2 separate regions of the Homo sapiens genome follow, and region 1 is linked to region 2. The links come from fine-mapping of genetic effects on gene expression. Tissue or cell type: thyroid. Region 2 holds a variant in brackets; the other region holds the start of a gene. All regions are shown on one strand. Distances are from middle to middle. Region 1 holds the start of MIRLET7IHG (MIRLET7I host gene). Region 2 overlaps PPM1H (protein phosphatase, Mg2+/Mn2+ dependent 1H).

What was found. PIP is the estimated chance that this variant, and not a neighbour inherited with it, causes the effect.
Region 1: it holds the start of MIRLET7IHG, and the variant in region 2 is fine-mapped to the expression of MIRLET7IHG in thyroid (GTEx, PIP 0.97).

What each region holds. Positions count from the first base shown.
Region 1 is chr12:62,594,804-62,610,953 of GRCh38, forward strand. It overlaps MIRLET7IHG (MIRLET7I host gene), which reads left to right and starts at 7,940. Exons shown (of 2, transcript NR_186001.1): 1 at 7,940-8,032. It overlaps MON2 (MON2 regulator of endosome-to-Golgi trafficking), which reads left to right. Exons shown (of 35, transcript NM_015026.3): 35 at 1-5,673. LINC01465 (long intergenic non-protein coding RNA 1465) reads right to left here and starts at 8,631. Exons shown (of 1, transcript NR_121682.1): 1 at 6,948-8,631. MIRLET7I (microRNA let-7i) reads left to right here and starts at 8,883; the gene lies at 8,883-8,966. RefSeq lists enhancers at 7,234-7,757, 7,758-8,279, 7,794-7,903, 7,984-8,173, 8,280-8,801 and 1 more and silencers at 8,254-8,563, 8,654-8,953.
Region 2 is chr12:62,655,976-62,672,125 of GRCh38, forward strand. PPM1H (protein phosphatase, Mg2+/Mn2+ dependent 1H) reads right to left here. Exons shown (of 10, transcript NM_020700.2): 9 at 11,203-11,354. It also overlaps the pseudogene RPL32P26. Among named protein-coding and RNA genes, the nearest start is that of MIRLET7I, 60 kb to the left of the region's middle. RefSeq lists enhancers at 1-500, 2,947-3,472, 2,974-3,268, 3,473-3,999. The variant A/G (reference allele first, on the strand shown) is at 9,202.

The DNA of each region.
Region 1 (16,150 bases), 61 kb before region 2:
AATAAGGTAATAAATGCCAGTCTTAGTGTGAAGCAAGTGGGTGGCCCCCTTGGTAGTATAATTGGACAGGATTTTCCTCCAGAATATTTCCTGTCACCCTCCAAGAGTCACTACAGTAATTGATTGCTGGCATGGAACACATTGCCCTTGTCTTGTTAGTATGAATTGGGTTCTCCAGTGACTAGAAGAACTGGGGTGTGTGAAAGTATTCGATGCCAGGAGATTCAAAAAGGAAGCTCTCAAAGATAAGATCATTTTATGGCACAATTGAGTCTATAACCAGCCCTTTAAGCAGTAGTAAAAATGTCCTTTGTCATACTTACTAGAAATACTATGAGTTTTTTTTTTTTTTTTCATTTGAGACGGAGTCTCGCTCTGTCACCCAGGCTGGAATGCAGTGGCACGATCTTGGCTCACTGCAACCTCTGCTTCCCGGGTTCAAGCAGTTTCCTGCTTCAGACTTCCAAGTAGCTGGGATTACAGACATGCCACCATGCCAGGCTAATTTTTTTAATATTTTTAGTAGAGATGGGGTTTCACCATTTTGGCCATTCTAGTCTTGAACTCCTGACCTCAGGTGATCTGCCCGCCTTGGCCTCCCAAAGTGCTGACATTACAGGCCTGAGCCACTGCGCCCAGCCAATACCATGAGTTTTAAGCCTCACATCGTCACTTGCTGTCACTGCCAGTGCCTGTTTTATTCATATTGCTGGACAACAGACATATGCCACCAATTGTATGATTAATAAAGTCTTTTTCTGGCCATTTTGTCCATTATAAAGGAAATAAACTAATTGTTAACTTGCATAGATTACTTCTTAGTTTCCTATGCTACCACCACTGCCAAGGGAGAAAAAAATACATCATTTTGTAATGTCTTTAGTATTTCTTTATAACTAGTGTTAAGGTTTTGTTAATTTTATTGTATACATTTGTAACATTTATTAGGAGCCTTTTAGGTTCCAAAACAAACAAAAGGCATAAAAAAGTCTAGCTTAGAACCACTTTTCACTTGCTTTCATTTTTAATTTTATTCACTTAACAGCTAACATCTTTCTTGTTTCTTGTTTTTTCCATTATATGGTTATCGATTCAACTCTTGCTATATTCCTTAAATTTGTATGTATCATCAGAAGAAAGAGATGAACAATTTAGTGTAGATATTTTATTCTGGAGAATAATATTCAATTAAATTATTTCTACAGCAGGCCAGTAACAACTAGATTATTTGTCCTTTCTCAGTATAATTTTAAAGAGCATTTTGTTTTATTGTCACAATTTGGTACCACTAGTCCCAGGTAACCATTGGGCCAAAGGATCAGTTGAGAAACAGTTAAGGATGAATTAGCATAAGTTATGGAACAGTGTTAGAAAACAACTCAAAAGTATATTCTTTATTAATGAGGTGGTCATTATTACATTTGTGTCAATGAAGGGCAGTGTAGTTATTTTAAAATGACTAATATTTTCTCCCCAAATACAGAATAATTCAGATGGGCAACCAAGTTTTCAAGAGACTGCTGTAGGTGAAGTCTGTCTAGCCAAGGCAGAACACTTACAGGAGTCCCTAACTGTGCCACCCTTGGAATGGGTTAGTGTACAGGCTCAGAATATTGTGGATTACAGTTTTTCAGAGAAAACTACCACAGATGTAGACAAAAATGATCTCTGAAAGCATTGCCAGCAGCCAGGTATGTTCCTTAGATTTCCACTTAGGTTTGGCATTTTGGCAGATAAGCTAATCTTGTATAAAGCATCACATTTTACTATGCTTAGTGTTCCTGGGTTGTATTTATCTACATTATTAGAGGGAATTTTTATTTTAAAAAAATTGTCATTCATGAGAAGAATGGGAGTTCATGCCACATAGTATTTTACCAATTTATATAAAGTGGGAAAAGTCTTTAATACTTCATGATCACTTGAATTAAAGTTTTTGTATCTCTGGAAAGTAGAATAGTGCTTTCATTTGAATGAAAAGTGTTTATAGATTCAGAAAGAGAGATGATATCTTTGTATCTTGATTTATATACAGACCATTTCAGAGGAAGTTAAATGTCTTACAAATCCAATACTTTCTAATGCTCTAACAGTGTTGGCTATTTAAAAGAACATGTGGCAAGTTCTATATGAATATTCTTGGTCATCTCGACTAATTCTGAGGCAATGATGGACAGAGATGCTACTTCTTATTTAACTCTAGGCATGTTGACTTTTCAAAGCGGTTTCCTTATTTCTAAACAGAGATGATGATCAATGAGTTACTAATTCTTTAGAGGAAAAAATGCATAATTTGAGTGTGGAGTTGATTTTAATGACAGGGTAATTCAAGTTGTTTGATAAATTTATTACTATATTGTAAGAGAGATCTTTGACCATTTTTCTTCCTTTTTCTTGGACATCACTTTCTTCCCTCCCCTTCTCTCTTTTATGTTTTTATCCTTGTTAAATTTTATGTTTACGTTACCATCTTTCTTATACTTTCCCCTGATTTTTCTCTTTTAATTCCTCTTTCATTCTCTGCCTCTTCTCTTTCAGCTCTTTCTCTAATTGTGCCTATTCCTTGTTCATAAGAAGTGGAGCTGTTAGTGGTAGAACCACTGCTCATGGTTCTACCACTACAAAGTGGAAAGTAGAAATACTTTGCACTTTGGCCACTGTTGCGTTTTTGCCAAGGTAAAGTTCCCCTGCCATTTTGAAATAGCTGAACAAGTTAAAGTAATATGTTCCAAAAACTGGAAGTGCCATAAAAAACTAAAAATAAAAAAAAATTGTGACTATAACTCCTACTGTCTTTATGAATACACGGGATTCAGCAGCCAAGATGCTCACAAAATGGGATTGCTATAAATATGATGGATTCAGCACCTAAATTTGGAATAATCATGTCTTTTCTGTTATGTGGGTAGAGAGATTATATATCTTTTCTCAAAGTAAAGTATTTAAAACCTGTTTAAATGAGGGTTTTGGCTGGCGTGGTGGCCCACACCTGTAATCCCAGCACTTTGGGAAGCCAAGGTGGGAGTATCACTTGAGGCCAGGAGTTTGAGACTAGCCTAGACAACATAGCAAGATCCTATCTCTAGTTCAAAAAAATATTTTTAATTAGGGTTTTGGTTTTTTATGATTTTGGGGGGTGGGGGAGATATTTGTTTTTTTGAGGCAGACGTTTAAACTTTTAGATTTATCCCATCTTAATATTGATTTATATTGACACTGCCTACTTACAAGAATAATTTGAGGCAGCATATTGCCCATGTATTTCAACTATTTTCATTTTTCTGTTGCAAAGCAGTCTTTGATGGAAGACCCGGAATCTTATAGTTCTCATATCTGAGTCTTTCTGGAGTGTATTTGGTGTCTGTGTGATTGGTTCACCCAGAGGTCACCCAGAGGTCAATTGAAACCTTCCTAATTGTACTATGGTATTGATTCTATCCCCTCAAGTATGAAAAAATTAAATTTTCAGACCATTTTCAGTTGCTGCGAATGTAGTTACACTAAGTTTTATTTTAAACTAAAATTCAATAAACAGTGCAGCCAGGGAAGATCTGCTAAACCATGCCGTTATTTGGAAAATCATTGCAATATATTAACAACTGCTTCCTTCTATGATGTTTACTAGATGGAGAAAAATACTCCATACCTATATTGCAATTTTATTTTTATCTAGAAAAAGAAAATATTAGGCTTCAGACCCAACTGTGCAAATTTCATTTGCTTTCCATCTCTTACTACTACCTCTGTGTCATAATTTAACACGTAACATACAACTCCTGTCTCTTAAGGCAGCTACCATATGGTGTTTATGTCAGACTGGATATATTTATCTAATTTTGTGAAATTATTTTTTAGTTCCCAACACAATTCTTGAAAGTAATACCACTGTTGTTACTCTTTCTCCTTACAATTTTTATGTTGTTGAGATGTATCAGTTATGTATTATAATCATGAAATTGTATTGGCCTCAAACCCAAATTTTCTTTGTAGTCTAGGATAGATTTTTCATGAAAGCTATATAGTTATAACTGTGATTGTACAGATTGTTTATTTGTTTTACAGCTAACATTAAGCATGATTCCAGGTTTTTAATTATGTTCCAGCAACACTAGTGTTTCTTTATAACTTAAAATCATAACCACTTTGATAATTTACCTTTGGATCTGACCAGTGATTCATTTTTTTCTTGAATATACTTTGTGTTTGCTTTCTCATCCCCGTTAAGTCTGAAACATTATTGACACCCCACATCACTTACTCTGTTTAAAGACTTTACGAGTAGTGAGTCACATGTTTAGGATGATCACTTTGGGAAAAAAAAAATTATAGAGTAAAGGGGAAATGTTCTTGAGAGCTTTATTAAAACCATTAATATATAAAATGAAAAAATAATAAACAGAAGACACGAAGTGTCTCTCAATAGTTTAGAAAGAAAGATTTGGAACTTTAAGTAAAAATGCTAGGTCAAGTAAAAATCCTGATGTAGATTAGATTATCTTAATCTTATGAGCATTTTTTTTTAATTTGGTGAAGCTGTTTTGAAACTGCCTGTCCATATCAATGCCAGACTATCTCTCTACCTCTCAAAGAAAATAATTTGCATTAAAATTCCTTTTTTTGTTATGTAATGAAAGTATAAAACAAGAATTTGTACGTTACTCAGTGTGTACTGCAGTCAGATATAGTTAAAATAATTTTTCTGATGCGTAATTTTAACCACCATTTCTGGAGTACCTAGTATGTGCAGGCCAAGGCTTTGCCTATATTATTCCCTTTAATCCTCAAAGTAGCCTTGCAAAGAAGTTATTTTCATTTTACAGAAGAGTCAAGGATTAGGGGGTTGAAGTGAGCTGCCTAGAGTCACATACCTAAAGTCCAGGTGGATCACTATGTCTTGCTTTTTCAAAAGCAGTTCTTTCTACTACAGTACAATAGTTTCATGTTTTACAGTCCATTAAAATCCAAGACTTATAAAATAAACTAAAAATACTCTTGAGGCAATTACTATTTCTATGATGGGCACTGGGACAAATATACTTGAACATAACAAAGAACTAAAAATACTGTGAAAAAAAGATTTGTCTTAACGATGACCTTGAAAGTTGCATTGGGTTTTTATTATTGGTCCAGGTTTAAAACATTTTATCTATTTAAAACATATGTTGTGTGTTTTAAGAAGTTATGTTATAAATAACAGCATTGTGGTTAAGAGCCCAGAGTCTGGGGCCAGGCTTCTTAGATGCAAATCCCAACTCTGTTATTTTACTAAATGTGTGACCTTGGGCAAGTTAATTAACCTGTTTTGGTGTCCTCCTCTGTGAAATGGAGTTAATCGTGGTATTTAACAGAATTCAAAATGTAGTGTGTTCTAAAGCGCTGTGCCTGGAGCATCATCACCACTAGGTGGTTAGGGAAGTAAAACACATTTGGCACACATCATTCAAGAATGGCCAGAAAATCCATGTCTTCCCACAATAGGGACCAATTTTTTGCCTTTCACCAGACAACCACTGAATGTTAAGAATCTACTGTGTGCTAATAACTGTGTCCTTGCTGTATGACAGAAGCTATTTGGAGCGCTCTCAAGTGCTTATTACAGCTAGTCAAGGAAACCGCATATATAAAATAATACTGGATACAAGACTATACAATTAAATACTGGTGTATCACTAACAACTGTTTAGACCCTGTTTTTGCGTTAAGCATTGGGTTAGTCTCTGTCCTCATGGAGTTTTCAGTTTTATAGGGAATACAGACCTTTTAACAAGTATGTAAAGTACAGTAAAAGACAAGTACAGATTAAAATGAAATCATAAAATAGGAACCTTAGCCTAGTCTTCTGTGGTTCAGGTTAATAGTGCTGTTAGTAGTCAGAAGGAAGTTTTTTAAAGAAATGAAAAAGCTCAGTGGTTAAGATAGAAATTAAAGTTAGTCTTGATGGCTACCTAGATTTTGGATGAGTTCAAAGGATATACGGAGGGATTTCAGGCAAGATAATGTGAGCAAGGCATATCTGTGAAATAGAAAACAGTGCATTTTGGTGTATTGTGTGAAACAAGGTTGGTTGTGAAGGATTGGGTCCCTTCATAAAATTCCTTGAAAGCCAAGGAGAGTAGTTTAGATTTGAGATGGCAGGGTCTGGAGTGATTTAAGAATAAATTATAAAACCAAGGAAGATAAACTTGCAATCATAAGCAGGATAGGATATATACAGTATGGAAAGCTAAGCTAGAAAGCTGTTGCAATTTTCTTGCTATGAGGTGATGATAAAGAATTGATTAACGGTGGTCATATTCAGAAAGGATACTTAAGATTCCTGATATGCAGGGAGGGGGGAGAAAAAGTTGATGGTAACAGTACATTATATGTGGATGATGAGTATATTGGTGTTAGCACTGTTAAAAACATTATGGAAAGGAATGTAAGTGATAAAGTAGTATAATGACTAAATTTAGTTGGAAACTACTGCTGTAACAAATCTGTATACCATAGACCAAACAGGTGTTTAGTGGCCATTTAAAAATCTGTGCCATTATGGCAAAGGACATTTGCTTTGGTACAGAATAATCTGATCCACTGCGCAGTCAATGAGCAGTGAGGGTTGATTCCCATGGCAGTCCAATCTTTGCTTATCAAGGAAGGATGGTGTGAAGTTTCTACAGACTTTCTGGTAAGTGATTGATAGATGAGTTTATGGTGTGATTGAGTTTTTGCTTTGAGTTTATGCTTAGTGATTGATAGGTGAGTTTATGCTTTGTCAGGTAAAGCATTTAACTGCAAATGTATTATGTTTACACAAATATTCTTAATTGGAAATAGTTTCTGAATATGCACCTAAAAATGTTCTTATGAAATATGTCAGGCAGGCTGATTTTTAACTTGAAAACTTCTACTTTAAGAAATTGTTTGGGTCCCATCGCCTATACCATGTAGAATAGAAACAAAAAGCCAGTTATTTAATTTTTAATTTGCAATTAAACTCTTGGCCAAGAGGATCTGTTGTCCAAAATTACATCGTGATAGCTTAAGAAAAAAAAAATCTTACTTTGCCAGAAAGGGAATTATACAAGGATATCTTTATGAGTTGCTGCCAAATTTTGTTCTAGACCACGGCCCTCTGGCCTCCATGAAGGATCAAAGTCTGGGCAAAGACAATTCTAAGTTGTAGGTAAACATGCTTTTCATTTCCCTCCATTCCTTACTTTTGTCATAAGCAGTCTGGATTTTCAGGGGTAAAGGCTGATAGGGTTGCCAGATACAGTCATTAAAAATTGAGAATGTGCAGTTAAATTGGAATATCAGATAAACAATTTTAAAAATATATGTAACACACATATGCCAAAACACTGGTTATCTGAAATTCCAATTTAACTGGGCGTCCTGTATTTTATCTGACAAGCCCTAACTACTTCTTTAAAATAATTTGTTAACTTCCTACAAAAAATCTCTAAATGGGAGGAAAAAAAAAATCCCGTAAGTTGTCTGGGCCAAAAGCAGAAGTGGCTCCATGGCAGTCAGCCTTCTCCCTAACTTGGCTTAAAAAGAAAAAGCCAAAACCAGAAGTCCCAAAAGCTTGCGTTTAAAGCGGGCTGTGCCGCAGCTTTCCCGCCTGTTTTCTGCGGAATGTAGCACGGCAGCCACCCCGCGTGGGTGGGGCTCGTATGGTTGTGTCCTTGCTGGTTGGGAAAGGAGGTGCCGGAAACTTCAAACCACGGCCAGGGTACAACGTGTCCGCTTAGGCGGCGATATGCGCCGCCATCTTCTTTGCGGGCAAAGGCCGAAAAAAGTTTGGGACTCCACTCCCCCCCGCTGAGCCGATGGAGGGCATCGCCCGCTGCCTCAGCACTCTGGTGACGTGGAATCGGGGTCCCCTCTTTCAGGGCTGATTTCTGGTAGCACGCTGACGCCTGCCAAGGCAGGGAAAGGGGACGCCGCCTCTGTCCCGGATGTAAGATGGCGGCGCGGGGGGCGGCCTGGCGGGGCGGTCACGTGGTGAGGAGTAGCGCGCGAGCCTCCTTAAGTGATCTCTAAGGTTCGTCCGGACGCACAGGAGCAGCGGAGCGCGAGACGGGTCTTGTGTCCGCACGCGTCGAGTCGTCGCAGTCGCCACCCGGGCCATCGCCGGGCCCGGTTTCACTGTTAAGGGGTTTTCGTTTGTTCCGTTTTCGCCTCCTGTAGAGCTGAACGGGAATTCCCCGAAGGGTGCTGGGGAACGGGTGGCCTGGGGACTTCCCGGCTATGCCTTGGCTGCTGTTTGGCGGAGCCGGCGGCAGCCTCTGCGGGATGCCCGCCGGCGATTATCGGCGCCGAGAGCGGGCCGGCGGCGGGTTCGACAGCGCGGCGCGGGTGGGGGCCCGGGTACCGGACTCGGCCGCAGCCCAGCCCCCACCGGGGACTCGGAGCAGGGAGGGGCGCGAGCGGCGCAGCTCGGGACGTGGCGGCAGCTCCTAGCGGGCGAAGCGCGGGAGCGCTGCTCGCTGCCTCTCGGGGGCAGTCCAGAACCAGTTGGTGTCTGACTGCGCTTTTGCCGCCCATTTCCTGCTTTCGAGCGGCTGAGGCGACGCGCTCCCCTCGGGCAGTGGAGGGAGCGGCTCTCTCCGCAGGACACCGCCGCTTTTCTCTCTTCAGAGCGGTGGCTGACGTACAGAACGCCGGCTGTATCACCCGGGCGCCGGCGCCGCCTCTCATCCCCGTAGCTCTCGGGGCGCGCCGGGAGTAGCCGAGCCGCTGGGTGCTGGGCGGGGTCTCCGGGCGCGGCGCGGGGGGAAGGCAAAGGAAAAGAAGGGGCGGCGGGCCGACGTCGGCGGCGAGGAAGGACGGAGGAGCGCCGGAGCCGCTTTGCTGCCCTCCGCGTGGTCCCGTGCCTCCCCGACACCATGGCCCTGGCTGAGGTAGTAGTTTGTGCTGTTGGTCGGGTTGTGACATTGCCCGCTGTGGAGATAACTGCGCAAGCTACTGCCTTGCTAGTGCTGGTGATGCTCAGCGCCGCGGAGGACAATGGCTGGGAATCCCCTTTGTTTTCCGGGGCGCTGCCTGGGGACAGCCCGCGAAGCCTCGGCGCCCGGCCGGCGCGGCCACCACGGAAACCGTTAGTTTCACATTTTCCTAGAAGGAATTGAGGGGAGTGGGGTGGACCGCGATGCATTTTAAAGGTTGGGAAAGAGCTAAGCCATTGGATTCCTTTTCTTGAAGGAAGGAGTGGAATTGTGTAAGATAATTGATACAGATAACTTTTTCACCCTAAAAAATTCTAACACTTCTTTCAGCAGTTAAATGCCAAATTTAGTGTGTACCTGTTTTACTTCATTCTTTAGCTGTAGGTTGGAGTGGTGTGAGCGATCTGCAGAACTGGCATTAGAGGGGCAGAAGAAGTAGACCTGATAATTAAAGTTTATGCCTTAACATTTTAGATCTGGTTTCTGATATGCTCTCTTAGTAAATCTGAGTGTGTCTTTAAAAACGTAAACCCAAAGCAATTTAAAGTTTCTCTTTAAACTTTGCAACTCGCGAATGAGAAGATTGAAATTATTTGTAGGTAATTGCACTATTCCGATTTTTTAATGTATGAGGCAAACAAATAAATTCTATGTACAGTGTGCTGTGAATGGTTTTGTTTTTTGTTTTTTCTTTTTAGTTTAACCTTGGGGCTCAGATTCTGCTGGTGTGGTGGGTTGGTTTTTTGGTTTTTATGGCCTTTGATTCTAATGTTATGTGGTACTTACATCTTTGAGGTTTTGTATGGGAGAAGAGGACTAGGAATTGAAAGTGGTTTCTAGATTTGAGTTTAAAATCTACTAACACTCATTTTGATTCCTGAGTGGCCACTACTCCTAATAGGAAAATACCTTTGCATAGAGAAAAAAGGTAGTTTGGATAACTAATGAAAATACTCAGTGCTCTAATACCCTGAAGTCTGCGTGGAAAACAAGATACTTGTATTTTTATTTTATTTTCACTGAGGGAAGTAAGTGGTCAGTTTTAGTACTTTTCGTTGAAAACTGATCTGTATTTGTACAGAATAAGTAGTTTTGAATATAATGTAATCGCAGTTTTCTATGGTTTTCTGATGCTCAGTTGAAAAACAAATAAGGCAGTTCTTTAAACCAACCAAACCCTTCAGCAGGAGTTTGATGCTTTTATCATTCAAAAGTGATCTAATATATGTGCCTTGATTGGGTTTGGTTTAGCCTTGAGAATAACCTTACTTAATCTGATCTCATCAGGATGGAGCCGCCTCATTGTGGGAAGGGCGGTGAAGAACCTTATCTTGAATCTTAAGATGCAGAAAATGCTTGAATGTTGGCTCTTGAAGTTTGCTTTTCTTGATAGCAACGCAGAGTAAATTCAGGGCTTTGTTAAGTGCTTGTTTTCTTAAATAATGAAAACCTCTGCGGTGCTGTGTCAAATCTTGGTTTATGGAGAAACTAATCATAACATGCTAATTTCATTATGATTTTATTTTCCAAAACACTTCATTCAACCAACCGAGGTAATCTTCCAACCCACTACACTCTAACATTTTTATGGAGAATCAACGGTTGTTAATCTGCACCCCAAAGTATAACAAATTCTGCTGGTAATTTAAACTTTAAGCGGATAAGCACACCAGAAATGCTCAATGTCCTATACAGATAAACTATTCATACTTTATATCTTGTGTTTTTAAAGTAAATTTTATCCACAACTACATATTGCCCAAATAGTAGTAACATTTTTGAGTTATTGGATGTAAAGGTACTTTGAGAGGTTAACTGTTTCCTAAGTTACAAGAGAAAATACTGCCACCAGCTGACTTGTTTTAATCCCATAGCTATATTTCTGCTCTAATCTCCAGTTTTAAAAATGATCTGCTAATTACATTTCTCTACACACCAACTGAAAATTACCAACTGAACATTTTCCTTGTTGACAGTTTCCCACAAGATGAATTTGATTTATCAAAAATACAGCTTTCTGAACTTAGTATTATTGACATTTACTTGGTGCAGTTAACTTTTTTGTTAAAGGTCTGTTGTCAAGCATTTAAGTAATTTGTAGTTGTAAAAAGCCACTGGTGGAAAGTAATAAGGCAGTATTTTGAGTGCCCTTCTCAATAAGTACATACTAAACCAAAGGAAAGCTGGGTTATGGTAATAACATTTTAATAAATGTCATCCTCAATTGGAAATGGAGACTGTGTTATGGTATATAGGACACACCATATGGAGAAGATTCTTGGAGAACACAGTTTTGCTTCATACTTTAAAATTCCTGATTGCTAATCTTACATAGAAAAGCTTTGTTTACAAGCTATTTTAAAATAACCTTTTGGCAGGTAGGCAAGACTGACTGGCAAGGGTGCACTCAAGACATTGTGTCTTGTGGAGTGGTCCCCAAAGAATTCCTGACAGAGGCACCTGACAGCACAAATTAGCTCTTCAGTGTATAAGCACAAAGCACCAAAAAGGCTGAGATTTCTTCCTAGCTACATGCTCTCTCCCGCTATTGTTTATTACACTCCACCCGCTCCATGGTGAAGCTGACAAAGGAGATACTATTAATTTCCTTTCCCACTGAATAATCCCCTCTGTAATTTCTACAACAAAAGGTAAATAGGACAATCATCTTCGAAAATGAATTAGGCCAGATTGGTAGTACCCAAAAGGAGAATTAATGACCATTGTCATAAACTCTGAAAAGCTGTTGGCGCTACTGATAATCTAGATAATTAAGCAAAAATTTGAAAATTATTTCTAAGATTGTCTAATGAAGTTCACTAAGTGTTTTTGTTAGGTTATCACTATTGGGCACCATGGGGAAAGCAAAATAATTGTATAGCTAGGTCATTGCCCCAAAGGAAAACAGGAAAGATGTCACATGAAGTGTTTAAGAATCAAAATGTAATTAGCTGAGTGTGGTGGTGCCTGCCTGTAGTCCCCGCTGAGGTGGGAGGATCTCATGAGCCCAGGACTTTGAGGCTGCAGTGAGCCATGATTGCACCACTGCAGCCTGGGCAACAGAGTGAGACTGTCAAAAAAAAAAAAAAATCAATGTGAGCTCAGTGCAGTGATGTGCACCTATAATCCCAGGTACTCTGGAGGCTGAGGCAGGAGAGTCACTGGAGCCCAGTAGTTTGAGACCTGCCTGGACAAAATAGTTGAGATTCTGTCTCAAGAAATTAAATAAATAATCAAAATGTGGGCAGGTGAGAAAAACATTAGTGACCTACTTCACTTTTGAGACCTGGCAGAAAAGTGATTGAATGAGCTAAGGGGGAAGGGAAGTATGGAACACTTCAAATAGTATAGTAATTTAGGGAGTTCTTTTGGTTAGGTTTGTTGCCTGAGATCTTGGAGATGACAATCGCAGTGATAATGATACTCTAGGTGATTTACAGTTTAGTTTCATATTATCTGCTACAAATACGCTGGGAGTGTCATCAGAATTAAAAGAAATATTAGCAGTTCTACATGGAATTTATGTGTTTTCTTATCTCAAGTTGAAAATTTTTTTTTTGGTTAAATTTGTTTTACATTTACCTTTCTTTAAAAGTGCTGTTTTGTTCAGATGTAATGGAATTGTGCCTACACAGGATTTTTGGCCACTAAATTTGTGAATAGGGTCCTTTAAAGGCATACTATTGACACCCGATAGTGTAACTTTAGTCTTTTAGTTATATCAAATATGAACAAACCTAAGACACAATCTTGTGTTTTTAAGGATAAGTTCCTAGTTCTTTCCTCTTATTCAACATCAAACAACACTTACAGAAAATATTATTTTCTTCGAATCAGGTTTACAAATTCCGTTAGTTCCATTATAATATAATTGAGAGTATTTTATCATGGAAGTCAGGAGTTCGCAGAAAGCCAAGCTGTGTGATATGTCACAGAAAATTCAAGTAAATTAAGGACTAAAAACTGTCCACAGACATTGACAGTTTAGATCATATATGTAGTTGTAATGTGTTTTCTGTTATACCTGAAAAATCCCTTAACTGCTCTTAGGTTGAGTAATAAACAATTAACGGGTGTTTTATCTCACTTTGAACATAACTACCAAAAAGGTATTAAGATTCAGAGATTGCTGTTTTAATATTCTGCACATAGTGTATTTTAAAGCCCTTGTTAAACAGAAGTATTATGTAGATACAGGCATGGGCTAGTTTTAGTCATAATAGTAACACTGACTTAATGTTACCGTAATAGATGGCCGAAAGAGTTGACTAAACTCTAAAAACAGATACATAAGCAAATTAAAGTATATTTTTCTGTTTTAAAAACAAATTTACATACTTTTTAAGAGTTCGGACGAAAAACCTAAGAATAAGAATCCTATCTGCCATTCATTTCTTTTTGTAGTGAATGAAGCTTATACAGAATAAATAAGTTCCAGATAAATTCAACAGGTGAATCGGATACCTGCTCTATGTCAGGTGCTGGGAATATACAGAAGATAAAACAAAAACAAACACAAAAAAACCAACTCCACATTATGGAATTCACATTGTAAAAGGAATACATTTCCCTATAATAATAATTACAGACATGTAGTGAGGACAATCCATGGGCCACCTGAGTTGTTTTCAAACCTGAGTTCCACTCATACACCTGTTCTAGAGCCCTTGCTCCAAAACCACTATTGATATTCCAGTTGTATGTTTTAAAAAAGCCATTTCCCATTGATTTTTGTTATAATTGTACCTATTTTTTTTAAAAAAAGATGATAATTTAGTTTCACCAGGGCTGTTTTCTTTCTTTCTTTTTTTTTTTTTGAGACGGAATCTTGCTCTTGTTGCCCAGGCTGGAGTACAATGGCACGATCTCGGCTCACTGCAACCTCCACCTCCCAGGTTCAAGCAATTCTCCTGCCTCAGCCTCCTAAGTAGCTGGGATTACAGGCGCCCGCCACCACGCCCAGCTAATGTTTGTATTTTTAGTAGAGATGAGGTTTCACCGTGTTGGCCAGGCTGGTCTCGAACTGCTGACCTCATGATCCGCCCACCTTGGCCTCCCAAAGTGCTGGTATTACAGGCAAGAGCCACCGCGCCTGGTCAGCCAGGGCTGTTTTCTATCTCCTAAACAGGATAACACTGCAGGAGGTACTTCACCTTTAAGAGCTTACAATGTTGTAGCAAGTGCCCAACTACCTTGTGGAGGAATCTAGACCCCATAGCCAGACATCACATTTTATGATGTACACTCTAAACATGGTAAAAGTTCAAAGAAGCAGGAGTGCACTGTGAGTAGGTAGAGAATGCATCTCTCTGGAGCAGAAACGTCAGATTATTTTAACAGTATAAGCTATGGAGAGCGATTATGAGCCTTGTGGTGCCTGAGAACAGGAAAGAAAGAAGTATCCTACCTTCCTTATATAATTTATACCTCGGGGTAACTAAATGGTTGTGAGGGAGATTTCCTCATTACAGAATAATTCCAGTTTCACAGTGCAGAACGTCTGATAGAATGTTAACATTTACAACAGCTCATGAAATAAAGCTAGACCTCTTCAATGGCTAACTTAATGGTTGAAACCATTAAGTAAAATGCTGATGGAGAAGTATGTGATTAATGAATCAGTAGTAGAGAAGTATTTAATTCATGGATCAGGGCAACCGCACTTCAACTCACTGATCAATTTTAATATTACAAAAACAGATAACTAGATATTCTAGTTCAAATAATTGAACTAGATAGTGGTTTACTAAGACTCTAGACTCTCATCAAGTTTCTAGATCTGATGAGTAGTTTATTAGAAATTTAAGATATAGGGGAACATTGTTAAATCACCACAGGAGCACAAGTAGCAAAAATCCACACTGAAATTCTATAAGACAAATGATCTAAGGAAAAAAAATTTTTAAGGAAAGAAGGGCAGGAAAACCTGTAGAGTAAAATGAATTTAAAGATATTTATCGGTTTAATTGCAATGTATAGACCTTGTTTGGATCCTAATTTGATCAAAGCTAACCACAAACACATTTATGAGACAATTGGAGAAATTTTAAAACTGACTGAATATTAGAAGTTAAAGAATTGTTTTTGAAAATGGTATTGTGGTTATAGTTTTTAAAAATCTTTTGGTATATGCATACTAAATAATTTACTAATGAATGATATGATCGGACTTTGCTTCATACTTTAATCCATGGGGGATGGGAAGCATATATGGGAGTACACAGGAAAGAAGCTTGTCTTAGTGTTGGTATTGATGATGGGTGATGGGTAGATGGGTTTTTTTATTCTGTTCTACTTTTGTGTATATTTAGAATGTTCCATAATAAAAACTCAAAAACACGTAAAACAAGACAAAGAAAGATTCCTGTGGTTTGGAGACAACCAAAGCAAAGTGAGAACACATACAAAACCATGTGAAGGTCAGTAAGGTGCAGCTAAGTGTTCTTAGGGTATCCTCCCAGGCCACTTTGAAATACTACCTTGAAGTCTATCAGAGGATCAGTCCATTTTCCTTATACTCCAGATCAAATATATTGACTAATATAGTGCAAGTTCACACATACCCACAACAAGGATACCATTGTTTAAATATATCTATTATAATTAAAACTAGTAATTAGAATTAATAAGAGATGTGTTGAGAACTTTTACTAAGTACTTTGTATGTATAAAGTACTTGCTTTAATGTTAGCCTATTAAACTTAATAACTTTCCATTTTAAATATTATTTTTCTAGTTCCATAGTCTTTTTCTAGAAGTATGCCTTATTTCACATTCTTAAACAAGTACTCTAAGCAAAATCAGCTCACTAAAAAAATTTGTTTGGCTTTAACTGCTTTCAATAAGCTTAGTTCTGTTTTTCCTCTTTTATTTTGTTATTCCTCCTGTCTAACTGAAACTTTGTACCCTTTAGCCAACATCTCCCCAGTACCTTACCCCCTCTGTCTATAAGCCCCTGGTAACACTATTCTCTCCTTTCTGCTTCTCTGAGTTTGACTTTTTTATATTCCACATATAAATGAGATCATGTAGTATTTGTCTTTCTATGCCTGGCTTATTTAGTGTAATGTCCTCCAAGTTTAAACATGTCGTTGCAAATGATAGAATGTTTGTCCTTTTAAATGGAACTCTAATAATTGTTCTAGCAATTTATTCGATTTTTTGTTTCCAGTTAGATTCCTTTTTTCTTAACCTTCTTTGTGTGTGTGTGTGTG
Region 2 (16,150 bases):
GCGGGAGGGAGCAGAGAAAGGACAGCAGGGGAGGCATGGAAAACAAAAAGGAAGAGGGGCTGAAGAGCGATGGGAAGGCCAAAGCTCTTTTCATAACCACTGACTCTTAAAGTCAGGCGGAAGGAGGCCATAAATCCTCGATTGTCCTCTTGTCCTTGCAGATTCTGTTGCTGTCCTTAGTTCTTTTCCTTCCTAATGGACCAGAAAAGGGCTCTGGGTGTAAGCGTGGCTTGCCCAGGTTCCAATCCTGGCTTTCCCACCATCCAGATGGGTGGCTCTGGAAGAAGTTTTTAGCCTCTTGGAGCCCCTCTTTCCTTACTCAATAATAGTGCAGACCTCCAAGGCTCCTGTAACAGCCATGTGATCTTTCCATAAAGCATTCAGCACAGTGCCTGGCACACAATCGGAGGTCAATAAGTGTTAGTTATGTTCCTTATTAGATATTAAATGCCTTTCTCCTCCCCAGGAGTTTTGTCATAAGTCATCTACGTCTTATAGTCTGTTTTCTGAATCTTTAGCATCTGAATCAGCACAACAGTGTCAAAAATAAGTCAATTTCAGGCTGCAGGCTATCACCGTATCTTAAAGTTCTTAATAGTTCTTGTTGGGTGGGAACTTCAATTTGCCATTTGGATGGTACAGACAGGGTCTTATAAGAGGGTGAGTAGTGGCAGGAACTGGGGAATTAATGGCTTCCAAATATTTGCATATAAAAGGCAGGCTCCATCTGCTGACACCCGCAGTAATACAGTGTGAGGGGAACAGGAGGAGGAATCCCCTTTGCATTCTGAGCAGGCCTCAGAAATTTAAGAGGTAGAAAAGCTCTCCCAGCTTTGGAATGTTGGCAGGGGTCTATGGCAGTGGCGTCTTGGTGGGTGGAGGGTCAGGGGTGGCTTAGAATAGGGAATGGCCTTTGTTGTGCCCAGAACTAGGCAACTCATCCTGGGAAGAGGCACACATCTTAGATTCACTGCTGAGAGCTGGTCCACAGATGCCCCTTGTGTAGCTCTGGAACCGAGTTCTTAAGCAGGTGAAGCTGCTCATGCCAGCTTCTGTCCCCTGTCAGGTTATGGGGACTCCACTCAGGCAGAATACCCTGAGACACCAGAATAACGACAACTGTTGTCTGCAGTGCTGTCACTGGGCTCATTGGGAGTTTGTGTGCTGCCAGCAGACACAAAGCTGCAGACTGGAGGGAGTTCCCCACCCCCATGAGAGAGGGTGAGACGCCCTGCCAGGCCTCATCCACCTCTATGCACCCTGGCCCTGGTTCCCTGGTTTCTTAGGTGGTAGGTTTTTAGTTCAAATTCCAAACAGTAACATTTCAATACGAGGGGGCATAATAGACTATTTCCTTCTCAATCCTCCCTGGGAAGCCCTGTAAAACATCCTGATGTGGCCACACAGCTAAGGGGCCACACAGCTCTGCCACATAAACACCCTAAACAGGATGGGACGGTGGTTGGCTGTGTGCTGTTAGAGGCTGCCACAGCCAGGACCTCAGGCTGATTTCTGAATTCCCACAGATCTGAGTGTGCTAAACATTGCAAAAGAGAGAAAACTGCAGATTTTTATCTAGTCTTCAGACACCAGATCAAACACTCATGAATTTGTTCTTAAAACCAGTAATTGGTATGGTGAAAAGTGGAGGAAACCCTTCCTTTTTGCATTTAAGGCATAGTTTTTGAAAACCTTATGGCATGCAAGAAATTAGTTCAGCTAACTCATGGAAAGGTTTCATAAAAAGAACCTTTGTATTTTGCAAAAATAAATTTCATATTAGGGTAATGCAAACTAGCATTTAATACTTGAATTAACGCCTGTTGTCAGTGTTGGTGTTTTACTATTAACCTTTCACTGATTAATCTCTTCCTTCCAAGGCACACAGCTATCTGAGCCAAGGAGAGCATGGATGTGAAGACTGACAAGTGTGGACATCAGGAAGGCTTCTCTCATTAGAGACATACTCTGTAGGGTTTATGGTATACTGGTTCTTACAGATTTAATACTGCATAAATACTGCATAAAAAGCCCCTCAAGGGTCATGGCAGGGAGACAGAGGGTCATTAAATCCAGGTTACAAAAAAAAAAAAAAAAAAAATGAGGTGGGGCCAGGCATGATGGCTCACACCTGCAATCCCAGCACTTTGGGAGGCCAAGGCAGAGGCAGGAGGATTGCTTGAGACCAGCCTGGGTAACACGGTGAATTTTTTTTTTTTTTTTTTTTTTTTTTTTTTAAGTAAAAAAGAAGTTTCCACAGACAGTTTTGGGGAAATGAAGCTCTAGAGCAAAGCCTGCACAGTTTTGCCTGGGCACTGGGAATGTGAATCCATGTGCATTTCCAAGTTTGGTTAGCTATTCCCTGGCCCTAGTTCCTCTTGGCTTTGCCCACTCCCTTCCCCTTCAGTAATAGTAACAATTTATTCCTTTCTGACAAAATGGTAAGCGTCTTCTTCTCTGAGTGTTTACATATTTGCCTCCGTTTTGAATATTCTTCCCAGGAGACCCCCCCACTGAACCTCCAGCCTTACAGAGGGGACAGTCAGTTGCAGATATTTTGCATCAGAAAACCCTTTCCAGGTTTGAGTGCCTTCTCCAAATCATGTAGGATCTTTAGGGCTTAAAAGAGAACCTTACTGGAATTATAAGGAACCAGAGGACTGTGCAGCCCAACCTCCATTACCTGCAGCAACCCCACTCCAGGATGTTAGCGCAATGCATTTCCTAGGAACAGTTCATTTCGTGACCCCACAAGAGTAAAAGAACTGCCAGCTTCCCTACAATTCAGGGCAAACTGTGATAGAAAAGAAAGAAAGAAAGAGGGGCCATCTCCTCCTTGGCATCAGGGCCAACTTCAGACTCCTTGTGGAGCCCAAGATTGTCAAAAAAAGAACCAAGAAGTTCATCCAGCACCAGTCTGACCAATATGTCAAAATTAAGCGTAACTGGCAGAAACCCAGAGGTACTGACAACAGGGCTCATAGAAGGTTCAAAGGCTAGATCTTGATGCCCAACATTGGTTATGGGAGCAACAGAAAAACAGCACATGCTGCCCAGTGGCTTCCGGAAGTTCCTGATCCACAGCGTCAAGGAGCCGGAAGTGCTGCTGCCATGCAACAAATCTTACTGTGCTGAGATCATTCACAATGTTTCCTCCAAGAACTGCAAAGCCGTTGTGGAAAGAGCTGCCCAGCTGGCCATCAGAGTCACCAACCCCAATGCCAGGCTGTGCAGCGAAGAAAATGGGTAGACAGCTCATGTGCACATTGTGTTCTAAAAAACCGTAAAAACTGCAAAAAAAAAAAAAAAAAAAAAAGAGAAAAACTTACTGCACTCATATTCTGGCTCATCCATAAAGCCGCCTTTTAATTTTCTGGTTCCTTTGTTGAGACAGTTCAAAAGAGCAAAAGGACTTAAGATACACCAGGGTCAGAAAGATCATACAGCTCATTTTTACTCCCATCTCTGCCTGAGAGGATGGTGTGAGGGTCAGAACACATCTTTATGCTAATCACCTCTTCCCTCACAGCACATTCTGGAGGGGGAGATGCTATTTTAAATTCCTTGCTGGGAAGGATGTCAACAGAGGAAGACAATGCTGGCAATTTGTTTAGAATGGCTGTCACTAGGAGGTAAAAGAAAAACAAAAAGAAAAGGAACCTACAGGCAACATAAACAAAAGCCCAACAATCAAACGACAAAAGCCCCTAGTCTTGCCTGTCTCAGGCCTCATTCCCTGCCTCTTTTTGTCCTGCTTCCTTTCTAGACAAAACTGGGAGATCCTGGTAAGACTCAAAGTAAAACAGGCCCACTCAAAACCTCAGATGCAGAAGCACCTTACCCTTCTCACCGGCTTTGTTCCATTCCCCTTCCCTCAGGCTTCCCACCCTGGGGAGAACTTTTCCCTTCTCATTTTGTGTCCAACAATAGGCTGACCTCCTTTGGTCAGTTCCCTCAGGCTTGAACCCAGCAACTCTCCACTGAAAATTAAACAGGCAAACGTGTAGTCCCAGGCTACATATGGAGAAATAGGAACTCTCTGGCCAAGGAAGGGCTAATAGAGCCTCTGGAATTATAGTGGGCCTTTCCTCATCACAGAAATTATGACTTGGCAACTTCTACTCATATTTCCATTTGGCATGACAAGATTAGAACAGCTCCCAGCTGGGAGGGCACTGGCTCTTGGGACTGAGCTCTCTTTGTCCATGAGCCTCCCAAGGAGACATCCTAAACTGGTGTGTGAGTGTGGTGCCCTCCTACCAAATTACACACAGGTATGTACAAAGATGGCAAACACATGAAAGAGAACACTGTTTCACATATTCCTAAATTATGAGTTTGACAACAGAAATAGAAAAAACAACCCTAAAATTTGTATGAAACTACAAAAGACCCAGAACAGCCATAGCAAACCTGAACAGAAAGAACAAAGCTGGAGACATCACACTTCCTGACTTTAAAATATACTACAAAGCTATATTAACCCAAATAGCATGGTACTGGCATAAAAACAGACACATAGACCAATGGGACAGAATAGAGAACCTGGAAGTAAATCCATGCATTTACAGCCAACTCATGTTCAACAAAGGTGCCAAGAACATACATTGGGGAAAGGACAGTCTCTTCAATAAATGGTGCTGGGAAAATTGGATATCCACATGCAGAAAAAGGAAACCAGAGCCCTGTCTCTCACCATATACAAAAATCAAATAATAAAAACAAATTAAAGACTTAAATATAAGACCTGAAACTACGAAACTACTAGAAGAAAACACTGGAGAAATGCTTTAGGACATTGGTCTGAGCAAAGGTTTCTTGGCTAAGACCTAAATTGTCAGTCTGAAACAAATTAAGTTTCTCTGATGTCCCAATATTGTGTAATTACTTAAAGGAACACACAGGGGTAGGAAAACAATCCTCATCTTGTTTCTCACCATCAGATTTTGCAGAATGCTTCCTGGTTGTGAATCATAATGAACAAATTACATAAATTCCATATCGTTACCACAGACTTCCTTTAACACAAATAATTTTCACGTTCATGATCTCATGAGATCATGGGCCCCTGCTGACCCCTCACACCTCATCTGTTGACATTCTGCTCCCCACCTCCAAGACCAGTCAGCCACACTGACTGTTGGGTCCCAGAATGTGCCATGTTTTTTCTCCCCAACTCCCCTGACCCTTGCCTCGCTCCTGTTTATTCTTCAGGTTTAAGTGTAGACATCCTTTGCTTTAGGTTAATGCTGCTGTAATCCCTCCAGACTGTAAACTCAAAGAGGGCAGAGCTGAGGTGTGTGTTCTTCACGAGTATCTAGCAGGCCTTGGCTCACAAAATAATAGGTCCTTAGTGGTATTTCCCAAATGAACAAATCAGAATGGGAGTTATTTGTTAAGAAGAAAACCTTGACTCTTCAGTTCCTTTTCTTTTTTATTTTTTGAGACAGGGTCTCGCTCTGTTGCCCAGGCTGGAGTGCAGTGGCACCATCTCGGCTCACTGCAACCTCGACTTGCCAGCTTCAAGAGATTCTCGTGCCTCAGCCTCCCGAATAGCTGGGATTACAGGTGCCACCATGCCCAGCTAATTTTTGTATTTTTAGTATAGACGGGGTTTCGCCATATTGGCCAGGCTGGTCTTGAACTCTTGGCCTCAAGGGATCCGCCTGCCTTGGCTTCCCAAAATGCTGGGATTACAGGTGTGGGCCACTGCACCTAGGCCAGTTCTGTCTGTTAAAACACTTTTTTTTTCCTTATTTTTAGAGAGGAAGTCTTGCTGTGTTGTCCAGGCTGGTCTTGAACTCAAGCTTAAGCCATCTTCCTGCTTCAGCCTATGGAGTCGCTCAGATTATAGGCACATGCCACTGCACCTGTCTTTACAACCATAATTGTCTAATCTGCAGACTGATAGTCTATTTCTTGCTGATAAACTGTGTTCCCCTTGCAATTTTCCCTTTCATTCATTCATCCATCTGATATAGGATTCTTTCTATTGCTTTGGTTTGCCATCTTCCCCGAAAGGCATACAGAAAACATTTTTTCTTTCCCATCCTGTTTGTTCCAAAGAGATCCTTGTGAACCCTGCCTCCGTAGGCAGCAGTTCTCGTGGACCCCAGGAGCCTGCTCTGACCTGGCATGTGCACGCTGCCCACAGGTTACCACTCCTTGGCATACAGATTTATCACTCTGGAGGAAGGCTGGTAAGCAAGACCAAGCCAGCTTAGACACAGAAAAAAAGTGCTGAGTGCCTTTTAATGCATAACTGGCAGGTGGCTTTGCAAAGCTTTATAAAAATAATCATAGTAGAGAAAAATCAACATGAGAATGTTGCTAACAAGTGGGATACATAACATGAAACTTGAAAGGCGAAAAACACATTCAAATTCAAATAAAAGAATATTTAATTATAGTGCCATCAATTCCTCCACACCTGAGCTGAATTATATCAGACAATTCGAGGAGGAGACAGATGGTCTACCTTCACGTTTCCTGAATTTCTGTTGTGAAATATGTGAGACATAACAACACACACATCTATTAGTGCTTATTATCTATTAGGCACTTCACCTAATAATATATATGCATGAGGTTAATACTGTTGGAATCTCCATTTTACATATGAACAATCAGAGAAGAGTTAAGAAATTTTCCCAAGATCCTAAATCTAGAAGGGGAAGAGCCAAAATTCAACTCGGGAAGTAATTATAGATTACAGGCTCTTAACCACGAGACTACCCTGCCTCTCATATACCATTTATAGTTTAAAAATAACACAAACAACAATGTACCTGCCATCTACTTGAAGGAACAGAATATTATCAGTAAATATCTTAGAAACCCAACAGGCCTCAAGCATATATTCCCCTTGGTATCTGCCTCTTCTCCTCTCAAAGTAACCATTATCTTGAATTTTGGGCCAATTTTCTTGGTTTTTGTTATAGTTTTAATGTCTATATCCCTAAACAATATATTGGTAGTTTTCACTTCATGTACATAGAATTCTAATGTATGTATTCCTCTATGGCTTATTAAACTCAACATTATGTTTTTGAGATTCTTCCCTGTTAATGAGCACAGCTTTGGCTCATTTTGGGGGTGGGGGAGGTGCTATAAAGTATCCCAATATTTGTTTACCCGTCCCACCACTGGACACGCAAGTTACTTCCAGTTTCTGTAATAAAAACAATTCTGTGAATATCTTCTTGCATGAACGACGATGCAAGAGTTCTTCTAGGAGAGTCGGTTCTTGAATTTTAGCAGCATCAGAATCACCTGCATGGTTTGTTAAAACACAAATGGTTGGTCCTACCATTGGAGTTTTTATTTCAGGTGGGGCCTGAAAATCTGCAATTCTCTTTTAAAAAAAAAAATTTATAAAATATATATGTAAAGGTAGAGACAGGGTCTCACTATGTTGCCCAGGCTGGTCTTGAACTCCCAGGTTCAGGTGATCCTCCTGCTTCAGCCTCCCAAAGGGTTAGGATTATAGGCATGACCCACCATGCCAGCCAAAATTTGCATTTCTAACAAGTTCCCAGGTGCTGCTGATGCCATGTAGCTCAAAGGACCGTGCTTTTCAGAACCACCACTCCAGGGTACAGACCTAAGAGTAGAACTGCTGGGCTCCATAAAAACACCATTGGTATTATGGTTATAATTGTACTGATTCTATGGATCAATTTAGGTAGGCAGCTTCACTTTGGCTCCTTAGAGCCTTTAAGTTGTAAGAATTCTTGCCGGGCGCAGTGGCTCATGCCTGTAATCCCAGCACTTTGGGAGGCCGAGGTGGGCGCATCACCTGAGGTTGGGAGCTCGAGACCAGCCTGACCAACATGGAGAAACCCCATCTCTACTAAAAATACAAAATTAGCTGGGCGTGGTGGCACATGCCTGTAATCCCAGCTACTAGGGAGGCTGAGGCAGGAGAATTGCTTGAACCTGGCAGGCGGAGGTTGCGGTGAGCTGAGATTTGCGCCATTGCACTCCAGCCTGGGCAACAAGAGCGAAACTCCATCTCAAAAAAAAAAAAAAAAATTATTCTGTGTACATTTATGCGAAGAATATAGACCGAACTAGCCAAGTAACACAAGTCAGCCCTTAGGGCCTCACTCAGAAATATCTTTCTCTGTGGTTAAGGGTATCTTTCTTTTCTTCTCTGTTTCCAGAAATCAGGATCTTGTGGCCAGAGGTTCCCTGTGACACAGGGGGACATTTGGATAAAGTTAGCTCATGGCATAGAGGGATAATAGTCATTTCTGGCAGGTCAGAGGTGAATGGAGTCTTCATCTATGCTTAGTTTATTAAATTAGAAAAAAAGGCTAAAATTTCAGCCTTTACAGTTTTGATATGTATTATTATTCAGGCCCAGGTACTTTCTAATTTTCATTATAATTTTTTCCTTTGATTCATAAGTTGTTTAGAAGTTTGGTTTCTATTCCATGTGAGTTTCCTCTCCTTTACTAGTTTAGAAGTTACCCTTTCTATTATTTTAACAGTTTTCTTAGCTATTTCAACTTGTTTACTTAAAGCCTAAAGTTAAACACCATTAACTTCTCAAAAGAAGCATAGCATGTGAGCTAACACCCCTCCCTTGACAATTTGTACGCTATTTTTATGCAATATTTTAGTTCTATCATTTTTAACCCACACATTAGACATTCTTATTACTGTTTTATATAGTCAAGGTATATTTAAATATGACCACATGTTTACTAATACCTTAGCTTAATAATCCATTTTACTTCTCAGATATTTCCTGTGGGATCATTTCCTTTTCTTACCTGAGCACACCCTGTAGAAATTTCTTCAGAAGAGGTTAGTTGGCGGTAATATGTATCAGTTTATGTTTTGCCTGAAAATTTGTTTACTTCATCCTTGTTATTGATAGTTTTGCTACATCTAAAATTCCTAGATTGACAGTTATTTTTTTCTTAGCCAGCTGAAGATATAATCCCACCATTGGCACCGTTTACTTTTGAAAGTTGGCTGTCAGTCTGAATGTCTTCTTTTTTTTTTTTTTTCCTGGCTGCTTTTAATATATTTTTGGAAGGCAAAGGGGTTAAAGTTCTTCAGTTTCTTTCTCTTTTTTTTGGGACAGAGTCTCACTCTTTCACCCAGGCTGGAGTGCAGTGGCGTGATCTCAACTCACTGCAACTTCCGCCTCCCAGGTTCAAACAATTCTCATGCCTCAGCCTCTTGAGT[A/G]GCTGGAATTACACACATGCATCACCATGCCTGGCTAATTTTTGTATTTTTAGTAGAGATGGGAGTTTCGCCATGTTGGCTAGGCTGGTCTTGAACTCCTGACCTCAGGTGATCTGCCCGCCTCCACCTCCCAAAGTGCTGGGATTACAGGGATGAGCCACAGCACTCGGCTTTTCTTCGGTTTCACTATTTTATTTCTCCTTCCAGAGATTTGTCAGGCTTTCTGAATCTTAGGTTTAGTATTGACAAAAAATTCTGGAACTTCTTCCCATCTTCTATAGTTTATCCTTTTGGAATTCTTTTAGAGCACCTTAGGCCATCTTTTTAGTCTCTTAATCTCATTTCACATTGTCTTTTCTCTTTGTCTAAGCCATCTACTGGATTATTTATTAGATCAATTTTCTAGTTCACCAGTGTTCTCTTCAACTAGCTCTAATCTGTTTAATTCAGTGAATTTTTAATTCCTATTTTTAAATTTATCATCTCTAGAATTCCATTTTCTTAAAAATTGTTTAGTCATTTTTTTAGTCTCTTTTAAGACTCCTATTTTAAATGCTTTAAATTTTTTTGTTTGTTTTGAGACGGAGTCTTGCTCTGCTGCCCAGGCTGGAGTGCAGTGGTGTGATCGATCTTGGCTCACTGCAACCACTGCCTCCTGGGCTCAAGCAATCCCACCTCAGCCCCCTGAGTAGTTGGAACCACAGGCATGCACCACCATGCTCAGCTAATTTTTGTAAAGATGGGGTTTCACCATGTTTCCCAGGCTTGTCTTAAACTCCTGTGGCTCAAGTGATCCTCCTGCGTTATCTCCCAAAGTGTTGGGATTACAGGTGTGAGCCACCATGCTTGGCTAAAAAAAAATTTCTGAAGCATGTTAAAATATTTTATATTATTGTTGGCTTTCTTTTGTTTGTGTTTTGAGACCGAGTCTTCCTCTGTCACCCAGGCTGGAGTGCAGTGGCGCGATCTTGGCTCACTGCAACCTCTGTCTCCGGGGTTCAAGCGATTCTCATGCCTTAGCCTCTCAAGCAGCTGAGACTACAGGTATGCATCACTATGCCCAGCTAAAAATATTTATATTTTTGACTGCTAAATCCAATAAAGAAGTATTTACAGGTCCAATTCTGATGCCTCTGTTATTCCTGCTGGCTTTTACTCATGGTGACTTGTGTTCTAGATAAAGCTGCCTTTCTCGAGAGGTAGTTTCTGTTTATTTCTGAGAGTCTTCTAAGGATATTTAGGTTATTTACACTGCTGCTAGACTGTAAGAAATACTTAACTTGGATCTTTCTCTTCTTACCAAGTATTTCTCAAAAGAAACAATTCTCCAATGGATGACTATCAGTGCTGGGGTGCATTTGCCATCACTCTCATCAACAGGATCAGAAATGGGATTATTTCTACTTTAGAGGATAGCTTAGAGGAAGTAAAAATGTGAGAAAGGTATGCCGCTGAAATGCCTAAACAAACACTCAAATTCTTTACCACTTGTATCTACGTTCAACTTAAGGGGGATTTTTATTTGGCAGAGAAAGTACCTCTTTTTTTTTGTTTTGTGACAGAGGGTCGCTCTGTCACCCAGGCTAGAGTGCAGTGGTGCAGTCTCAGCTCACTGCAACCTCTACCTCCCAGGTTCAAGCAATTCTCCTGCCTCTGCCTCCCGAGTAACTGGGATTACAGGTGCCCACCACCATGCCCAGCTAATTTTTGTATTTTTAGTAGAGACAGGGTTTCACCATGTTGGCCAGGCTGGTCTAGAACTCCTGACCTCATGATTCACCCGCCTTGGCCCCCCAAAGTGCTGGGATTATAGGCATGAGACGCCACACCTGGCTGGAAAGTACCTCTTACAAGAAAGGTAATCCCTTCTGCAGTTTGGTTACTGTACCGTCCATATCAGCCTCTAAGTCATGAATTATGAAAATTGCATGATTATTAATTTCAGGCATGTCATGGAAGAATGCTTGAGGAACAACCCTACAATTGTAGAAATGCACAAACCTGTGAGGATCATCTGGATCACAGTTAGGAAGAAACTGAGTGATTGCTTCTGCTACTTCTTCATTTGATAAAACGTCCCAGAGTCCATCAGTGGCCAAGATCAGCACATCATCTGATCCATGATCATATTTTGAAAGATCGTAGATTCTTACCTGAAAAAAAACAAGAATACTACCACTTAAGAAATTGGAAGCATATTATTCTCCCTAACAAACTGACTTCTGATTCCCCTTCCCTTTTCCTGCCCAGCCTAGTGGTTTTCAGATATGCATTGTAGGGTACTTGATTATACAGCGAGCTGTGTGGCCAGGGATAGTCTCCCTTGGAGACTTGCTATATAGACACATGGGGCCTAATACACATTTGTGAATGAGCCTAAGCGGTGGGCTTAGTAATTGACATAGAAGAAATTAATTGAAAATGTAATGTCTGAGGTATAGTCAGAATGATGATTTATAAGTGGATTTTATGCTAGCCAGAAGATCAGCAGTGAGCTTGTTTGCTGTCTTCCTTTGCGTATTCATTCAGCAAACATTTATTAAGGGCCTACCCTGTGCCAAGTGCTATAAATGCAAAGTTAAATATCTGATTTTTCTGCTTCAGAGGAGGTCTCAGTCTGTGGGGGAGATAAAACCAATTCAGGATTCTTAGTAGCTGCTCTACATGTATTTGTCTAGGAGTAACGAGACATTCTATTTAATGCACTCACTTGAAACCTTTCTTGCATTACCTGCTCTGAGGCCCAAGCAGCCAACTCCTCTCACATAAGGATGGGGGCTCTGACACTACCTTCATGTTTCAGGAGCCTCAACTGAGGCTCACAGAAGATACACGCTCACTCTGAACCTCCAAAGTATGTCTTTGTCTTGACAGACTTAAGTCTTTCCTCATGTCTAGTACCTTAAATGACTTGGATATTTCAACACCCACCTAAGCTCTGGAAAGAGAATGAGGCAGCCTAGGCAAAACTAGTAAGAATAAAAATCAAGCCTCTCTTGGGCTAGGCCACAATTCTATGTCCATCCTACTTCAATGTGGGAGGGGAGGGATAGGGAGGTGTGGAGAGGGATTTGGGGTTTCACTGCTCTTCCCTCCTAATTTGGCAGAATCAATCCCTGCCTATTATACCATCTCATGAACTGAGAAGAAAAGCAAGTCAATTTAATCAATCCCCTTCAGCCTCCCTTATTACTCTATTTTCTGTCTTTCTAATTGAGACGGAGTCTCTCACTGTGTTGCCCAGGCTGGAGTACAGTGGCGTGATCTCAGCTCACTGCAACCTTCGCCTCCAGGGTTCAAGCGATTCTCCCGCTTCAGCCTCCCAAGTAGCTGGGATTACAGGTGCATGCCACTACACCCAGCTAATTTTTGTATCTTTAGTAGAGATGGGGTTTTACCAGCTGGGTCCCAGCTGGTCTGGAACCCCTGGCTTCAAGGGATCCGCCTGCTTCAGCCTCCCAAAGTGCTGGGGTTACAGGCATGAGCCACCATGCCCAGCCCATTCCTGTTATTTTCTAAATGCAAGTCTGAGTGAAAGCGATGGGTCAGGGCACATGTCCTATGGCACAGCCATTGTTATGTCACCTCAGATCTAGAGACAATCATATCACCTCAGCCTAGAGACTAAATCTGTTTAGGTCTTTGAAAGCCAAGCCTCCTATGTTTTAGAAAGGTTTGTCCAGGCTAGTGATGCCCTGGCATGGGGCTGGTCCTGTGGGCTGACAGTCTATTCCCAGCAGCAGAACACAACAAAATGTTTACCCACAGGGCCCTGGGTGAATGAGCTCAAATGAAAAGCAGCCACCAGGCGCCAGGCCTTTGTGGCCTGTGAACAAGAAGGTAACAATTAGCTAATGGCCCAGCACATGAGCTGCGCTCAAGGGAGGAACACTCAGGAGTACACTGCACTGGTGTTTAACATCTTCTTTCCAAAAGGCATGCTCACTTAAGGCTAAACTTATGTTCCGGAGAGGGCACTCAGCCTTTTAAGCCAAATTAAAGAAAACATGAAAGCCTCAGTTTCCGGCAGACCAGAAAGTCCCAAATGTCAGAATTCTGTCCTCAGGTCACTGACGAATGTGGTCCAATTTTCACTGTATCAGAAACAAGCAACCCTCCTATGCTTTATTTTCCATGGTTCTTCGGTGTGTTAGAGCAGAGCTTCTCAAATATTAATGTGCACAGAAGTCAGCTAGGGATCCTGCTAAAATCCAGATTACAATTCAGTTCCGGGTGGGCTTGAGAGCTGTGGTTCAACTTCCTCCCAGGTGATGCCAATGCTGCAGGTTCACAGACCGGGCCCCGAGTAGCAAGGCCAGAGAGGATTCCTACTGGGCCAGATTTGTACACAAGGGAATCAACGTCTCAGTGGACTTTATGATGACTGTGGAGACTGTTCCTTAGAGTGGGCTGTTGACAGACTGTAAATGTCACCCCTGGGCTCCTAGCTTCAAGTACTGGTTCACTGTGTTGTTACTTTCAGTATACAATAACTTTGAGAGACACTGCTAATAGGAGGCCAAGGCAGGGGGATCACTTGAGGCCAGGAGTTCGTGACCAGCCTGGGCAACATAGTGAGATCCTATCTCTACAAAAATTAAAGAAAACAATGAGACCCTGGGCATGGCAGTGCATGCCTGTCATCCCAGCTACTTGGGAGGCTGAGGCAGGAGAATTGCTTGAACCCAGGATTTTGAGGCTGTGGTGAGCCATGACTGTGCCATTACACTCCAGCCTGGGTGACAGTGAGACCCAGTCTTTAAAAAAAAAATAGTGTTTAGAGGATTGATTCCTTTTTTTTTTTTTTTTTTTTTTTTTGAGACGGAGTTTTGCTCTTGTTGCCCAGGCTGGAGTGCAATGGCATGATCTCAGCTCACTGCAACCTCTGCCTCCCAGGTTGAAGCGATTCTCCTGCTTCAGCCTCCCTAGTAGCTGGGATTACAGGCATGTGCCACCACGCCCGGCTAATTTTGTATTTTTAGTAGAGACAGGGATTCTCCATGCTGGTCAGGCTGGTCTCGAACTCCCGACCTCAGGTGATCCACCCACCTCGGCCTCCCAAAGTACTGGGATTACAGGCATGAGCCACCGCGCCTGGCCGATTCCTAGCTTCTTATTGGGTTATACCTACAATAAATTTTTGGGATAATTTGAACTCTTTATGATAGACAATATTGAGTCATAAGAGGTGGTGAGATGTGGATGTCTCAATCTTATGCTTGCAGTTAAACAGGAGATTCCATTTGCCTTGCAGCTTCTTCTAAAAGAGAGGGTTCAGGTCTGCAGATAACATCCATTTAATTTCAGAGTCTGCCCTATGAGTAGGGTGCCAAACCCTCTTTAAAGTGCTTCCTGCTGACCCAAGAAATGTGACAGGTTGTGTTATTCAAGCTGAAGTTGTCTTGTCCACACTCAAATGGAAATCTGGCCAACAGAATGGGTGTGGGTTGATACATACACACGTTATAAAATGCTACTCTTCAATTCCATCAATAAATGTAATCTTTCCCTAATTCTACCGTTCCCATTTCTATGCTCGGCTCCCTAATGTAGTTTAATTAGCCAACATGAAAATCCTTCTCAAGACCGTTCTTCATGTAATTTGTATGAAAATAATAAAAAGCTGGTCACAACCCTGGTCTGTGAAGCACTCCCCAATTAACATCTTTTGAGGTTTTTACAACCACCCTCTGTTTCCTGCCCTTTAGCCAATTTCCAAAAATCTTTGCTAACTTTCCACTTACAACTCGTGTCCTATACATTAACCTGTGATGCAGAACATTTTGCAAAAATGTTTTCAGAAGAATTGGACTGCCGCGCAAGTCATCCCACTGTGTGCTTATCCTCCCCAGCAGCAAAGGCTTCAAAGGATTCCACTGGGCTCCGGAGTCCTGACCTTCCCTCCCTGAAGCTGTTGTTGGCCTTACTCAATCGAACCATACCCACATCCTCAAAGTTCCCCTGTTCAATTCCTTAAATAGCTTCTTAATGTTCCTGGAAGCCTCACATCAAACTAATGGGCTCTGAAGCTCCCCAGGACTCAGACATCTGGAAGAGTCTTTGCAGCCCTGGAGGGGACAGGTGTGCTACAGAAACGGCTTTGAAGTGGGACTGGGGGACATGGTCAGACCTTCTAATGGCTCCTTCCCGGGTTCCCATCCACCAAGAAAGGGAGAAAAAAGCCAGACGAATCCTTGAGATTCTTGCAGTTTTTCAGAACAATATAATCTGAGCAGCTAAAAAATGGGACCTGTGTGGACCTGCCTTTCTGCTGCCTTCAGTACGCTTTTATTGCATACTTGCTGTGTGCCAACTCGTTTTCCAGGCACTGGGGACACAGTGACTAAAACTGACAAAGCCTCTCACAACTTCTAAACTAGTAGATGAGATAGACACCCAAATAAATTACAATGTCAGAAGATGAAAGATGCTCTGAAGAAAAATCCAGCATGGTAAGGAGAACAATAGAGTCATTTTAGAAGATGAGGTCATGGTGGACCTCTCTGGGAAGGTACCATCTGAGCGAGTCAATTTCCCATGGGTCCCTTCTTGCACCTCCCCAACCTTCTTTTGGATTCCTGTTACTCAGTGTTAGACTGGTGGTGAAGAAGGGAGGGCTGAGAAAGGTGGGTGTCACTCTCTCCTGCCAAAGCAACCCTAAGGAGGACCAAAGAGAAGCCATCTTTCTTTTCCCTGGTCCTCTGCAGGCACAATCCTTTCACACCCACTAATATAAGATTTACCTATATGCTTTACTGTGGGTAAATCTTTGTCTGTCAGTTTTGTGTGAAACTGTAATCATCGATTTATGGCCCTGTCCTGACACTAGACTGTAAACACCATGAGGGTTGGCATTGTTTTTTTCTGCTTTGTATCTTCAATGCCCAACTTAACACCTGGTTCACTGAATGAATAATCGTCGAAACTGATTGTTCCACAGAGATGAAGC